2 linked regions of the Homo sapiens genome follow. The protein of the gene in region 1 purifies or fractionates together with the protein of each later gene. This does not show direct contact. Each region holds a gene or a part of one and is shown in the gene's direction. Other genes may lie near its edges.

Evidence for each region.
Region 2: the proteins of OSTN (region 1) and LRRC23 purify together in Homo sapiens (affinity purification with mass spectrometry; one large-scale study listed by BioGRID and IntAct). This does not show direct contact.

The regions. Positions count from the first base shown.
Region 1 is NC_000003.12:191,202,034-191,205,853, forward strand, and holds part of OSTN (osteocrin precursor), read left to right. Parts: intron 1-3,820. UniProt on the Homo sapiens protein: Hormone that acts as a regulator of dendritic growth in the developing cerebral cortex in response to sensory experience. Induced in the brain following membrane depolarization and inhibits dendritic branching in neurons of the developing cortex.
Region 2 is NC_000012.12:6,903,479-6,907,870, forward strand, and holds the start of LRRC23 (leucine-rich repeat-containing protein 23), read left to right. Parts: upstream 1-1,343; 5' UTR 1,344-1,597; intron 1,598-2,106; 5' UTR 2,107-2,155; coding exon 2,156-2,281; intron 2,282-2,366; coding exon 2,367-2,476; intron 2,477-2,930; coding exon 2,931-3,184; intron 3,185-3,836; coding exon 3,837-3,967; intron 3,968-4,392. UniProt on the Homo sapiens protein: Essential for sperm motility and male fertility. Plays an important role in the proper assembly of the third radial spoke (RS3) head and the bridge structure between RS2 and RS3 in the sperm flagella.

The DNA.
Region 1 (3,820 bases):
AGGTCTATGTAACTTAAGAGTCAACCTGTTTCTACTAATTCACTTTGTTGTATTACAAAGTATACATACAATACTAGGAGTTAGGAGACCAGATTTCTAAAGTAACTCAGCTTGTCTCAGTTCACAGATGTTTAAAAAATAGAATTATAATGTTTTCTGTATAGGTCTAACATGACTTGTAAGGATGACAGGAGATTAATTTCAAGATAGTAAAACACTATGCAAATGTTATTTTTTCAAAAGTTTATGTATGACAATTCTATTTGAAGAAAGTGGAAGCATTCCAGAAAGGATCTGCTCTTGCAGAAGGAAATCCCTAGACAGGACAAGCGGTTGAGGAGTTTCCACCTGAACCAGGCTGTGAGCAACAGGAAGACAGAGAAAGTATCTTCTTTACTTTTATATCCCCAGTATCTGACATGCAGTGTATGCCTAATAAATGCATCCTGTTTTTGAGTAGTATAAAATTTATATTTTTGCCCCTTTGTTTAATGTTAGAGATACTTTTCCATTTATTATGTTGGCTAGCTTAATGTAATTATGATGTAAGATTTTGATCAAATATTTTATATAAGTACAAAGTGGAGTAAACAGTGAAGGGGGTCGTGAAATTCCACATTAACTTCAGATTTAAATATGCTATATTTAACTTAATTTATCCAATTTTACCCTCTGCAAGCCTTTTAATGCTGCGTAAAAAGTTGCCTATGTATGGAACGGCCAGCCGATATGTGCAACTCTATTAGCTTTTCCCTATGTACAGTTTTAAAGCTATTTTCCCTTTAGTGAGCATTAGAATTAAACAACAAATTTCATTAACAGAATTGCCTACAATTATATACTAATGTTATTTTCTATTTTTAGGTAACATAGTTTTATATCAAGAAATATTTAGTTATTTGGGGATTTAGGTACAGATTAATGTATGAAAAGGAGAAATCCTAAAGTTTAGAGGAATGATTATTTGAGGTTAGTGATGCATGTAACTTTCATTAGAATGAGAATCTGTGATGTTAAATACTAATGGATGTATCAGGATTCCAGCATGAACTTCATCACATTTTACTGTAGCTGTAGAAACATAGGCTAATCTCTTATCTTCCCTCTACCTTGGTTTTCGTATCAAGAAAGCTGGGATATTAGTATCTGCCCCGCATTCCTGTTTACCTTCCACATAAGGCTGCTCCATGCATTCATTCAACACACACATTTGACCCTGTGCCAGGCATTCTGTAAGGTGCTGAGATGCAATGGTGAACATGACATGGTCTCTGCCCTAAACGAGTTTATAACAACTAAACCCTTTGTTAAACATCCAGATCTGGGGGTTTAAAATAATAATGGAATCTTTCTCTAAGGTGGCATTGTAGGTTTCTGGCTTCTTAATTTTTGCAAGAAAGAGATTAGTAGCATTAATCACAAATCCAAATAGAGGAAAAAAACAGACAGAGATAGTTAAAAATAAAATTTTAAGATTTTGGAAGGCAAAGTATCTAAAAAAGAGTGAAAATGGTGCCAAATAGAATAAAATCAGTTAACACATGTTCTAGTAACTTATCATTCTTCCTAATTTGTTGCCTTCAGGGACAGTCATTTTAAAATGTAGGTATCTGCCACATTAATAACACTGCATCCATAAAAATATTACTTTATAAAAAATTTGTTTGGGAGATAGAAAAGGGTTTTACACTTACACAAATAGGTTATACTCGAAAGAGCATGAAACTGGGAGTCTGAAAATGAAAGTTGTTGTTCTGGCTCTTCTTCTAACTGGCTTTGTGACTTTGGAAAATTTGCTACTGCCAATTGAAGAGCACTGAGAAATGGGAAGAACACATTCCTGATATTTTATTTATTTATTTATTTATTTTGAGATGGAGTTTCGCTCTTGTTGGCCAAGCTGGAGTGCAATGGCGCAATCTCGGCTCACTGCAACCTCCGCCTCCTGGGTTCAAGCGATTCTCCTGCCTCAGCCTCCAGAGTGGCTGGGATTACAGGCACCTGCCGCCACGCCTGGCTAATTTTTTTGTATTTGTAGTAGAAACGGGGTTTCACCGTGTTAGCCAGGCTAGTCTCAAACTCCTGACCTCAGGTGATCTGCCCACCTCGGCATCCCAAAGTGCTGGGATCACAGGCGTGAGCCACCGTGCCCAGCTGATATTTTAATTTTTTTTTAACGGGAAATGTTAAATTTCTCAATGTCAGCTTGCTCCTTTTTTTCAGGAATCCAAAACATAAAGTAAATTCCCATTACACAATTTATTAAAAATAGCAAATTTCAGAAGGAAATGTTTAAATAAATGGCTATGCACCACGAGTATTTCTCAAATGTATTTTTTATGAGGATAATATAGATGATATATGTGACACTGACAGAAGCTACAAGCCACTAGCAATTTTCAATTGCTCTTGGGTGAAAATCCTCAATGATTTTAAATCTCGAATTTGAGTTTATGAAGATCCCAAACTTCTTACCCATTTCTAAGCTTCTAAGTGACACAGCCACACTCAGTTATCTGGTTTGTGAGGCAAAATTCATCAGAGACTGGAATCGCAGTTTCAATAAAAAAAGAGACCGCAATGGCTGGAGGTCCCAATCTTTGCTTTCCAGCAGGTAAGTCTCTCAATCATCTGGGTGCTTCCCTAATCAAAGAAAGCTAGAAAAACCTTCTTTAAAACTTTGTTCAAATATTGTCACTTATTGAAATATCGAGATTACCTATAGAATGACAAACTATAATTTATCCTTTTGGTTTTTTCAATATAAGTTTTGCAGATTGTCCCTATGAATGGCTGTAAGTTCCCTAAGTGACTGTTGGGTGTAAATTTTGTGTTCATAGAAAAAAATTGGCTTCAAACATCTGCCTTCAGCTTCATAACAATCACTTCAAAACAATTTTTTTAATTATGTTTTAAAAACATAATATTTTCAAATTATAGTTTACAAAGTGTTTCTACATACTATTTTAGTTTCCGTTGTAAAGTTTTTAGTTATAATAAAACACAAATTAAAAAGGTGTAGTTTTCTCACAGATAAATTTATATCCTCATATATTTTTAGGAAACAATATTAAATATAAACTTAAAAGGCTTATTTATTTGAACTCTAAGCCAATTCCATAATTTGTGCTGTTTGTAAATTAAGATTAACTAAAGTTAAATAACTTACATTTTGTGAAGAAAATCAGTTTCATTAGACAGTTTTGAATATTTTAGAGTCTTGTTCAAGATCATTAGCCCATTAAGGAGCACAGCTAAACCTCTTATTCCTGTCCTTCAAGTCTGAGCCTGAGTTTTTCCCCAGCATAATGCTGAATATCTGTATATTGTCTGAAAGAGTTTGAATATTTTTTTGAATATTTATTCTTTCATTGACAGAGAATTTTTGGAGTCACGTCAAGTAAAAAAAAATATATATATATATATGTATATAAAACCTTCACTAATATCACACACATTTGTGATGCTGGTGGAGGTTGTAGAGATCTGAAAATTCTTATTATCAAAAATTCGTATTTTGTCTTCACCAATTTTATATCTACTAAAATTAAGATCATGATTACTGAGAAAATATTCAAATGATTATTTTGTCTTGACAGACTGTTAATTCAAAATGCAGGAGAGTAGTACTCAATTATTTTTAAATTATTAATATTATTTATGTTACTTGCAACATTTCTATCTGATAACCAAGTTAAATATCATACAAGTCTTTCTTTCTCTCAGCTTAAAAGAGAGGATATAACTGCATTCTATGGCATCTGGAACCTCAGTTCTAACAATTTTTGTTTTGAAAGGGTAGGGAAATGAGCATACTGAC
Region 2 (4,392 bases), on another chromosome or scaffold:
TCATTTGTATAGCACATCTCACTCTTCAGAGTGTTCATATTTATTATTTCTTTTTCCTCACAGCAACCCCAGTACCAAGGACACAGGCCAGGGGTGGGGAGGAGCAGGAAAATGTTTACTAAGGGTCAACTAAGTGCAAGGCGATTTACCCACATTATCTCTTTTAATCCCTTAACAATCCTTACAGGTGGACGTTTTAATAATCCCCATTTCACGACTGTGGAAATTAGACCTCAGTAAGATTTCATAACCTGCTGAAGGACACACAGGTATTAAGTAGTAGAGATGGGTTTTGAAGCTGGTGTCTCTGACTTTAAAGTCCCTACTGGTTCCATGACACCAAGTAAACAGATTTGCCTATTAACCACATTCCTCCAAGCTGCCCTGGGCAGGAGGTAATATAATACTTCCTGATTTCTTGCCCACCACATCTTCCACCAGACCACTTTGCCGTTATATAAAGTCTGTGGGCACAATTTAACAATGAATCACATGCCATCTTACCTGGTTACCTCATTGTTTCATTTACATTAGATTCCACAACAAGATTGGTAACATCCCCCTTTCCCCAGGCAGGAATTGTGTCATCTTAACCTCCCTGAGCCTCAGTATCCTCTTCTTTCAAATGTCTATCTTACAGGACTGTTGCAGAGATTAAATATCAGTTGTAAAGATGTTTGACATAATGTCTCGCACAAACTCTCCAGAAATATTTATTGCATCTCAACATCTTTTTCATCTCCTTCAACATGTCAGACAGGCCTGAGTGCCTGGGTTTGGCTATGCCAGTTCCTGTTGATTACTGATATAACAACGTTGGATCAGGAGTATTTTAGTGGGCAGATGTTGAATTTTCTGCCTTCCACCCACTAAAAGGTTTGCATCAAACCAGTCCAGGATAACTCATACTGGATCCCTGTCAGTTGATATAGTTAAGCTAATTCTACAGATAACAAAGAGTCTTGGGTACGTTTAGCTAGCAAATGCAGATCTGCCAAGACTCCAACCCAGTTCTTAAGGTATCTGGGTCTGGACTCCTTCCGCTCCACCAAGCCACCTTCCAAAGGTCTACCTGAAAATAACTAATGAGCAGAAACTATAGGGGGAAGGGGAAAAGACCCCTTATCTTGGTGTTTCTTGCTTTTCCTCGCAGCCCCGCCCTTTTTGCTTCGAAGGACGAGTTTTTCCTGAATTCACAATACTTTTGCATTGAAGATGTCCGGTCCCTTTAAGGTCTTGGGTGACGTAATGACTAGCCCCGCCCCCTCTCTTCTCGCTTCTCAGCCCTGCCCACTTCTTTTTGTCCTCAGCCAATTAGCGGCCCAACGCCCCTTCCGCGCCTCATCCGGGTTCCCGGGACGGGAAAGTGGCGTGGTAACCAGGCAACTACTGATCAATCCCCTCCCCGGCTGATTTGCGCATCAGGTAGTCGCCGCTCTACTCTCAACGGTGGCGAGCTGCAGTTGCCAAGTGCCCCGTCCCCGTTGCCATAACAGCAGTACACAACCCCTCCTTCCCCTCGCCCGCTTGCTAAACAGTCCTTCCCTCTCGGGACCAAGGGCCTCTCCAGAACTGCTTCTGATTGAGCAGAAACAGGGTCTGAGCCCCTTTGCTAAGGCGAATTGAGTGGGAGGGTTGGAGACTGCGCTTTAGGCTGGTGTACCAGAGGGCCCAAGGAAATTGGCCCAGTGGGGAGGGAAAAGTAGAAGAAATGAATGGAGCAGGGATTACGGATGGCGCAATGGGAGCTGAGAGGAGAGGAGGAGGAATTGGTAGGGAAGATTGGAGAGCATGGCTTAAGGGGGAGGTGGGAAGAATGGGGGAGAGGGAAGCCCAGGAAATAGGGACACCCGGCTGCTGGAGGAGAGCTGGAGTCACTGTGAAGGACAGGAAAGGCCTGGGGGTGTGGGTGACATCCTGAAGGGAGGGGGTCCTCAGTGGAAAGTGTGAAGTGGGAGTTGAGAATCAAAATGAGATGTTCACAGGGATAAGGAAAGAAGCCTAGAGTTGGTGGGTCAGAAGTCATGGGGGTGATGGGAGTGGCACGTGTCAATGACGATGAAGGAGCTGAAGGCTGGCAGAAGCTGATGAGACCTTCTTTTTCAGGAGGAGGACTGAGCTTATCTGACTCCAGAGCTTTCAGGAGGGAAGAAAGATGTCAGATGAAGATGATCTAGAAGACTCTGAGCCAGACCAGGATGATTCTGAGAAAGAAGAGGACGAGAAGGAGACAGAGGAGGGGGAGGACTACAGAAAAGAGGGGGAAGAGTTCCCTGAGGAAGTGAGAGCCTGGACAAGGAGGGGTCCTAGGGCTGAAGGAGGGGGTTGGGCAGGGGAGAGACACCTTACTCCACTTCTACCTGCAGTGGCTGCCCACCCCCCTCACGGAGGACATGATGAAGGAAGGGCTTTCTCTGCTCTGTAAGACAGGCAATGGGCTGGCTCATGCTTATGTCAAGCTGGAGGTTAAAGAGAGGTGCGTTTTGGGGGGACCAGATGAGGACTGTGAGACTGTAGGGCCCCTATCTCCTTTCCCACTGTCATTCCTGGGTGTTCTGGTTGAGAGTTTGACTCTTCTCATGCCTAGTGGAAAGGGAAGGACAGAATTTACTTTTCAGGAGCTCTGAGACTTCTCCTATCAAAGCTGACCTGGGGAATTGGAGATTGAGAGTATATGGGGGGATTCCTGCTGGATTCCCTTATTTGTCTTTCAGAGTATGGGTTCTCTGTCCTTCACAGACACAGGTCTCTCTGCCCACTGTTAAGAACCCACCTACCTTCTCTTACCCTTCTTCTCCCCTACCATCTGTTGCCCATTCTTCTCCCCATTATAAGCCATCTCCATATTGCCTTCTGCTTTAGCAACTCTGCCAGTCCTCACTGGGTGCTTAACCCTAAACCTGGTTTCTTCTCCCTCTTCCATCTCCTAGGGACCTGACAGACATCTACTTGCTGCGCTCCTACATCCATCTGCGCTATGTGGATATTTCTGAGAACCACCTGACAGACCTGTCTCCACTCAACTACCTCACCCACCTGCTCTGGCTCAAGGCTGATGGCAATCGGCTGCGAAGTGCCCAGATGAATGAACTGCCCTACCTGCAGATTGCTAGTTTTGCTTATAACCAGATTACTGACACTGAAGGCATCTCTCATCCTCGTCTTGAAACCCTGAATCTCAAAGGTGGGTCTTTAGGATGGGCTACACAAGATTCTTTCCTTCCTAGCCTGAGGCCAACAGAAGTGGGCAGTATGGTCCTTGGCTAGGGCACATGGCAGTCTGCATTCATTCATTCATTCAGATACGCAATATGATTCATTATGACAGTTCTACATGCTAACCATATAGGATCCAATAAGACAAGGAACGTCCCTATTCTCATATAGCTTATATTCTAATTGGGAGAGACAAACAAGTAACAACAAACACAGTAAGTACATTCATGTAGCATGTTAAAAGGAGACAAGTGCCTTGGAAAAAATAGATCAGAGTAAGAGGAATGGGGGACACAGGTGGCAATGTCAAATAGATTGGTTAGGACAACCATCACTGAGAAGATGACATTTGAGCAAAGAATTGAAGAAGGAGAGGGAATTAGACATGTCAGCTGCTTCATTCACTCTTCAAAGGCTTAGGTGGATATGTCCATCAGGACCTTGGACTACCTACCACACCACTTGCCTCAGGGCTCCAGAGGTATTAAGTCTGGAGCTGGCCTTCCTCAGTATCTACCCTGCTTTGCGAATGGTAGGATGATTTAGAGGCTCCCCAAATTCAGGCTCTAATGCTGAGCATTTGGAGTGGCCCTTTGAGCTCTTGAAACCCTCCTCCCCAGGGAACAGCATCCACATGGTGACAGGTCTGGACCCCGAGAAGTTGATCAGCCTGCACACAGTGGAGCTTCGGGGGAACCAGCTGGAAAGCACCCTGGGAATCAATCTTCCTAAGCTGAAGAACCTCTACCTGGTAGCTCACTGGGTCAGAGGGTGGTGCAGGGAAGAGGGCACTGTCCTGGGGGTCAGGATGCCTGCTTTCTAGTAGGCTCAGCTACTAACTTCATCATTATGATAATAACTGGTATTATTATCAAGACCATAGTTGGTTCCAGATGCTGTGGAGATACACAGCCACCTAGCAGGGCTGATAATATATAATGTGTGGATAATACAGAGATAATTTACCTTGATACAGGTAGTAGCAAAATGGACCATAATTGAGGTACAAACATCAGTCTGTGGAAATGTTTTAGGAAAACCCTCCTCTCAGACTGGGTTTTTCTTCAGCTCTTACACTACCACCACAACAATCATCAACATACGACTTCCGGGACCAAAGGTGTGGGGGTTTCTCCCCATACACCAAGTAGTAGACACCAGCTGGGTGATCTCTAA